Linked DNA regions of Homo sapiens. The protein of the gene in region 2 purifies or fractionates together with the protein of the main gene of each other region. This does not show direct contact. Each region holds a gene or a part of one and is shown on either strand. Other genes may lie near its edges. The genes, in order: ABHD12 and UGT1A9.

Evidence for each region.
Region 1: the proteins of UGT1A9 (region 2) and ABHD12 purify together in Homo sapiens (affinity purification with mass spectrometry; one large-scale study listed by BioGRID and IntAct). This does not show direct contact.

What each region holds. Positions count from the first base shown.
Region 1 is NC_000020.11:25,303,787-25,307,610, forward strand, and holds part of ABHD12 (lysophosphatidylserine lipase ABHD12), read right to left. Parts: intron 3,130-3,824; coding exon 3,047-3,129; intron 1-3,046.
Region 2 is NC_000002.12:233,674,769-233,678,592, reverse strand, and holds part of UGT1A9 (UDP-glucuronosyltransferase 1A9 precursor), read right to left. Parts: intron 1-3,824.

The DNA.
Region 1 (3,824 bases), on a different chromosome or scaffold from region 2:
TTATCTCTATGAACATCTATTACAGCTAGATGACAGGTGTCAATCACAGCTATATAACTGGCCCTCGGAATGTCTTCTGAAAATTGAAAATGATTATTTTTCCACCAGATATATATATTTTTAAGCGGAATAATTCAGGTGGGCCAAGAAACTTAGTGTAAATGAATGTTACTAGGAATCTGTTGGTAAAAAAAGTCAATGTTCTCTAATTTATCTGTGTAAGTGACATTTATGGTCACTCCAACTCTAAACACTTAGAAGTGATTTAGGATTTTCAGTAGGTTTGATAGATCCAAATCCTTCAGCAAACCACATAACAGAAGCATGGGCTGCCAGGACCGGCGGAGCCTGGGCTCTCCTGTGCGGCCCTCACTGAGGTGGTGCCTGACCCAAGTCTCCTTTATCCCCAACAGGGCTGTGTGCTCCGTGAGGGCAGCGCTGGTGCACTCCTGGCACCTGGAGCAGGACCCGGTGGGGAGCCCCCGCCCTGTCTGTGCTGCTGGCAGGAGGCACACACTCTTGCTTCCCAGTAAGGCTTGTCTGATGTGCGAGTCCCTCTCACCAGAGGCTCTGGAGGAAGCGGCAGTACTTGGGATTTCCCAGACCACGGCCCACCTGAGCTCAGGAAAGCCCCTCCTGCCCTCAGAGCTGTGCCCCTGACTTCCAATGAGCTGAGGGTGGGGGTCTCACCCAGGGTCACCTGTACTCCATCTGGCTCAGCTGGGAGGGTCAAGGCCAAAGGCAGCTTCAGGGGCACGGTACTCAAACTTGCTTTTTTTGTTTGTTTTTATTTTTTATTTTGAGATGAGTCTTGCTCTTTCACCAGGCTGGAGTGCAGTGGTGCGATCTCAGCTCACTGCAACCTCTGCCTCCTGGGTTCAAGTGATTCTCCTGCTTCAGCCTCCCGAGTAGCTGGGACTACAGGCGTGCACCACCACGCCTGGCTAATTGTTTTGTATTTTAGTAGAGACAGGGTTTCACCATATTGGCCAGGATGGTCTCAAACTCCTGACCTCGTGATCTGCCTGCCTCAGCCTCCCAAAATGTTGGGATTACAGTGGTGAGCCACCACACCCAGTCACAACCTTGCTTTTTAAGAAGGAATCCAGTTCATTCAGATAATTCTTTTTTTCTTTTCTTTGTTGCCCAGGCTGGAGTGCAATGGCATGATCTTGGCTCACTGCAACCTCCGCCTCCTGCCTCAGCCTCCCGAGTAGCTGGGATTACAGGCATGTGCCACCACACCTGGCTAATTTTGCATTTTCAGTTGAGACGGGGTTCACCATGTTAGGGTGATCTTGAACTCCTGACCTCAGGTAATCCACCTGCCTCAGCCTCTCAAAGTGCTGGGATTACAGGCGTGAGCCACTGCACCCAGCCCAGATAATTCTTTTTCAAGTTCCAAAACAGTAGTATTTACAAACAAGCAGGGTTTGTTGCTTAAAATATTTGTTCAACTTTTAATTTGTTCTATTTTTATTTTTAGAACCAAAACATACTTGATGGGAAAAAATACTCCATTTTTTTTCATATTCTGTTTCAAATTAAATTAAATATTTATAGGGTGTTTTACTTTCCCTCTTTTTTTTTTTTTGAGACGGAGTCTCGCTCTGTCGCCCAGGCTGGAGTGCAGTGGCGCGATCTCGGCCCACTACAACCTCTGCCTCCCGGGTTCAAGCGATTCTCCTGCCTCAGCCTCCTGATTAGCTGGGACTACAGGCACGAGCCACCACACCCGGCTAATTTTTGTATTTTTAGTAGAGACAGGGTTTCACTGTGTTAGCCAGGATGGTCTCGATCTCCTGACCATGTGATCTGCCCACCTCAACTTCCCAAAGTGCTGGGATTACAGGCATGAGCCACCACGCCCAGCCTACTTCCCTCTTTTTTTAAAGAAATCAAAATTCATGATATAAAAATGTCACAAAGACAATATCAATACAATCTGAAAAAGGTTTAAAAAAAGAACCCTTAACTAGAATACTTAACTTTTGGTTTACCTAATAGATTTTTAACAATAAACTTTGTAATATATTTCTATAACCAAACACAAATCAAATGGCTGAGGCAAAGTCATTTTCTGATTAAGTCAGTATCAGCAGGGCTCAGTGGCTCACGCCTGTAATCCCAGCACTTTGGGAGGCCAAGGCGAGCAGATCACCCGAGATCAGGAGTTCGAGACCAGCCCGGCCAACATGGTGAAACCCCGTCTCTACAAAAATACAAAAAAATTAGTGGGGCATGATGGCGGGTACCTGTAATCCCAGGTACTCGGGAGGCTGAGGTGGGATAATCACTTGAATCCAGGAGGCAGAGGTTGCAGTGAGCTGAGATCACGCCACTGCACTACAACCTGGGTGACAGAGCAAGACTCCGTCTCAAAAAAACAAAAACAAAAAAAAAAAAAAGAAGAAAAATCAACCAGTTAATATCACTGTTTTAATATGTGTTTTGGTTTTCACAAACCATTTTGAAATAAAACAACTCTATGGACAAAAACTATGTTATTTTAATATTGCTTTACTTCTATAATCTTTTCAGATTTCTTATTTCTTTCTGTTACAGTTCTTTACTTGCCCCCTGGCCCACAATTTTTTTTGTTTTGTTTTGAGACAAGGTCTCACTCTGTCACCCAGGCTGGAGTGCAGTGGTGCAATCACGGTTCACTGCAGTCTTGACCTCCCCAGGCTCAGGTGATCCTCCTAACTCAGCCTCCCATGTAGCTGGGACCACAGGTACACGATGCCACCATACCTGGTCAATTTTTGGATTTTTTGTAGAGACAGGGCCCTGCTATGTTGCCCAGGCTGGTCTCAAACTCCTAGGATCAAGCGATCTGCCTTCCTCAGCTTCCCAAAGTGCTGGGATTACAGGTGTGAACCACGGTCCCTAGCAGGCTTTCCCTTTTTAAAGACCTGTTTGCTAGAGAATGACCCTAAATACACTGAATTCCATCCTATTTGATTACTGTGACTAAAGAGGCTCATCCAGAGGTTCTCAGAGTTTTTCTAAATAGGAAAATTAGTTCCTGTCCCATAATACTCACTTTTCATCATTTGCAAATTTAATTCCACTACTTGTAATAGGATCAAGGAAGAACCAGTCAAACCCAGGGAAGTATCGATATATCTGGAGACAAGATGGAAACCATTTTCAGAAGCGTTGGTTAAGATATCCAGGCACAGGTCAAGGGTGCAGACAGTTTAAGTTCAGAAATCTATAAGGCGTTGCCCATAACTACCCTACCTAAGGGAGCAGGGGTGACATTGCCAAGGGGCCACCAGAGCTGTGCCCTGGCACCTTCTGCCCTGGCCGTGTCCTGGCTTTGCTGCTAGGAACAGAAGAATCACCCGCCAGGCCCCACAGACTGGCATGGCAGGGGCTGCCCTGCAAATGGGGCTCCCGCACCTCCCAGCCAGGCCAGAATCCACCCCAGAAACCAGTCTTCCCGCAGACACCAGGGCCGCCACCCCTGAGAAAGTGGGGTCTATGGACAGTTTCCTCACACAATTTAAGAAAAGCAGCACCAAAAAGTAAGATAAGATAAAAGGCTCTTCTGGTTGGTAACAGAACAGCATGAGGCCAGCATGGGCTGACACAGGCCCGAGAATCCATGGCCAGTGGGGAGCACAGGGATCACAAACCAGAGTGAGAAGGAGGGGAAAATAACTGGCTAGGTTTTAAGGGAAGGTCCAAGGTTCCATTCCCAGCTGGGGAGGGCACAGGTTGGGTGGGGCCTGGCTTACCCAGAATTCCCACTGGGGTTCACCTGGGCCTTTCCCCAAGATAAAACTGGAAGGCCAGACTCCCTGGTCCACACAGTC
Region 2 (3,824 bases):
AAACTAAAGCAAATGGGGAAGAAGGATTAGTACTGTATAAAAGCATTTTTAAATACATCAAAGAGAAAAAAACAGACAGTAATTATGATGTATTTCCATAAGGTTACACCAAGTGCACCTGCCTCTCCTGCCTCCACTTCCACCTCCTCTACCTCTTCTGCCTCTGCCACCCTGAGACAGCAAAATCAACATCTACTCCTCCTCCTCCACAGCCCACTCAATGGAAGATGATGAGGATGGAGACCTTTATGATGAATGACTTCCTCTTATACATACTCAACTTTTATTTTAGATTCAGGAGTACATGTGCAGGTTACCTGAGTATATTGTGTGATGCTGATGTTTGGGGCATGATTGCTCCCATCACCCAAGTACTGAGCATAGTACCCAATAGTTTTTCAACTCTTGCAGCCTTTCCTCTCCCTTTTAGGAGTCCATAGTGTCTATTGTTGCCATCTTTATGCCCAAAAGTACCCACTATTTAGCTCCCATTTCTAAGTGAAAACAATGGTATTTGGTGTTCTGTGCCTGTATATATTCCCTTAGGGTAATGACCTCCAGCTGCATCCATGTTGTTACAAAGGACATGATTTCATTCTTTTTTTATGGCTGCATATTCCATGGAGTATGTGTTCCACATTTTCTTCATCTAAGCCACTGTTGACGGGCACCTAGGTTGATTTCATGTCTTTTCTATTCTGAATAGAGCTGCAATGAACATACCAGTGCATGTGTTTCTTGGTAAAACGATTTTTTTTACATATATCTAGTAATGGGATTGCTGGGTCGAATGACAGTTCTGTTTTAAGTTCTTTGCAAAATCTCCAAACTACTTCCCACAGGGGATGAACTAATTTGCATTCCCACCAAGAGGGTACAAGTGTTCCCTTTTCTCAGCAGCCTCACCAGCATCTATTATTTCTTGACTTTTTAATAACAGCCATTCTAACTGGTGTGAGATGATATCTTATTGTGGTTTTCATCTTCATTTTTCTGGTAACTAGTGATGTTGAGCATTTTTTCATATGTTACGTTTTTTAATAACATTTTCTTTTCTCTAGCTAGCTGCATTGTCATAATACAGGATATAATACTAATAACATACAAACTATGTGTTAATTGACTGTTTATGGTATTGGCAAGGCTTTTGGTAAACAGTTGGCTATTAGTAGTTAAGTTTTTGGAGAATCAAAAGTTCTATGCGGATTTTCTACTACACACGGGTTGGTCCCCTTCATTCCCACATTGTTCAGGGGTCAACTATACTAGCAATGAACACTTGAAAACTGGATTAAAAATACCACTTAAATAGCATCAAAAACATGATATACTTAGGGATATATCTGACAAAGGATGTGAAAGACTGTACATTGAAAACTACAGAGCACTGATGACGGACCTAAATAAAAAGATATGTTAATGAATTGGAAAACTCAAAATTGCTAAGATGTTGTTTCTCCCCAGTTGATCTATAAATAAAATACAATCCCAATCAAAATCCTAGCAGGATTTTTGCACACATTAATGAACTTATTTTAAAATGCATATGGTAATGCAAAAGACCTCCAATAGCAAAAGCAATTTGAAAAAAAAAATTAGAGGTAACACTACCTCATTTATAGATTATTACACAGCTATAGTAATCAAATATTTCACAAATAGATCAACAGAACAGAATACAAAGTCTAGAAATACGTGCACAGATGTATGAACAACCAAGTTTTTACAAAGGTACAAAGGCAATGCAGTGGAGAAAAGGTTCTGTTTTTCTACAGTTGAATATTCACACGCAAGAAAACAAGAAAAGACCTCTGTGTCTTCCTACCAAAAGTCTATAAACCCAGTTTTACCACGATGAAAACATCAGGCAAAACACACACTGACATTCTAGAGGAACATTCTACAGGACACCTGACTAGGACTGCTCGAAACTGCCCAAGTCACTAAAAACAAGGAGAGTCTGAGAAACCGTCACAGGCTGGAGGAGACAAAGGAGACATGATGACTACATTTCAGGTGGTATCACTGGGATCCCATAAAAGAACAGGGAAATTAAGTAAAAATTAATGAAATCTGAAGGAAACAGACTTTAGCTTTTAGCTCATCATTATGCGTCAATATTGGTGAATGAGTTGTGATGGATGTGCCATAGAAACATGAGATTTAACAATGGTGGAAACTGGACACAGGGTAGATGAAAATTCTCTAAACTATTTGTTGTAACCTTGCTATAATCCTATATTTATTCTACAATGAAGTATTTGTAAGAAAAGTCACTCAACAGACTGTGAGAAAATATTTGCAGGACCCCTGTGGATGCACACAGGGGTGATTCATCAGTGAATTCATCATCAACCATGCTTCTGATGAATCCATCGGTGAAGGATTCATCAGAGGCATGGTGGGAGGTGGCTGGATGATTTCCACAAATGGTTTTGGAGTCTGACGCTGGAGCTCAAGGACCCCAGGGTGGGTCTTCTGTTGAAAAGACTATTCTTTCCCATTTGAATGATCTTGACACACTTGTCAAACTTTGGCACCTAGTCAATTGGCCAAGGATGTATATGTATGGGTTTATTTCTGAATTCTCCATTCTATTCCATTGATCTGTATGGAAAGATGTTGTGTGAGACAATCCGGGGAAATTTTATTATGGACTGTAAATGAGATAATATTAAAGAATTTTTATTGTCTTAGATATGATAATGATATTGTGGCTATGTAACAAATTTTTCTTATTTTTTATATTAAATGAATTGTTCAGTGATGGAATGACATGCCAAGAATTTCTTTTTAAAAACATACAAATTTATTTTTAAAAGTTTTCTTTAAAAAGATAGAATAAAGGGATAGATGAATTAGTAGAGCAAAATAGTGAAAATTATTTAACCTAAGAATGGATAAGTGGGTGCTCATTACACTGAGTCTCTCCATTGTGTATGTTTGAAAACTTTGAAAATAAAAACTTGAAGTAAATAATTTTAGTGGGAGGCCTTAGTCTTGTCCACCAAAAGCTAACTTTGAATTTGGATCTTGGACTATAGCCAGAATCTTACAGCAAGGGGGGAAGCACAGATCTCTTATTTATCTGTAACCATATCCCACCCCCAGAGCCGCACCTGCCATGGATGGTATAGACAAAGCCTGAATTCTTTTCACCTAAAACCAGTCATTAATTCTGTTGGAACTCATCAAAAATTCAAAAAGACTAGGGACCTCCTCTTTTTGCCATTAAAACTATTTCAATGTTCTGCTGAATTATTTACACATCATTAATCAACACACACACATTAGAACGCTGGAATGTAAAAGAATGACCACACGGAATGATATAGTTTAGAAGTTTGTCCCCTCCAAATCTCACGTTGAAATTTGATCCCTGACATTGAAGACGGGGCCATCTGCCATCCTTGTTAAAGTATTTAATTACATCCCTGGATGTAATTCCCCTGGATAGCCTCAAGGAGATTTTGTTACAGGAGACCTTCAAGAAAATCCCCTATGCAGGGTCTGGGACACTGCACACAAACACACCTGCACATACACAAACACATACATGTGCAAACACATACTCCATCATCAAGTAATGCTTCCTTCTCATCAGACAGATAAGACACAGACTCTGAATCCTGTTTCCCAGCAAGATGTAACCAACTGCATGCTTTTCCCAGACACATCCTGGCATCTGAAACAAGGAAGGAGCAATATGAAGTGTCCATCCTTCTGTCAATGACAATTTACTTCTGTGGTTGGGCCATATCCAAGGCTCTTTGCCGGAAAGCCTTCTTTGAGTTCTGAATTCCTCTGTGAGAACTCCGCTGGCT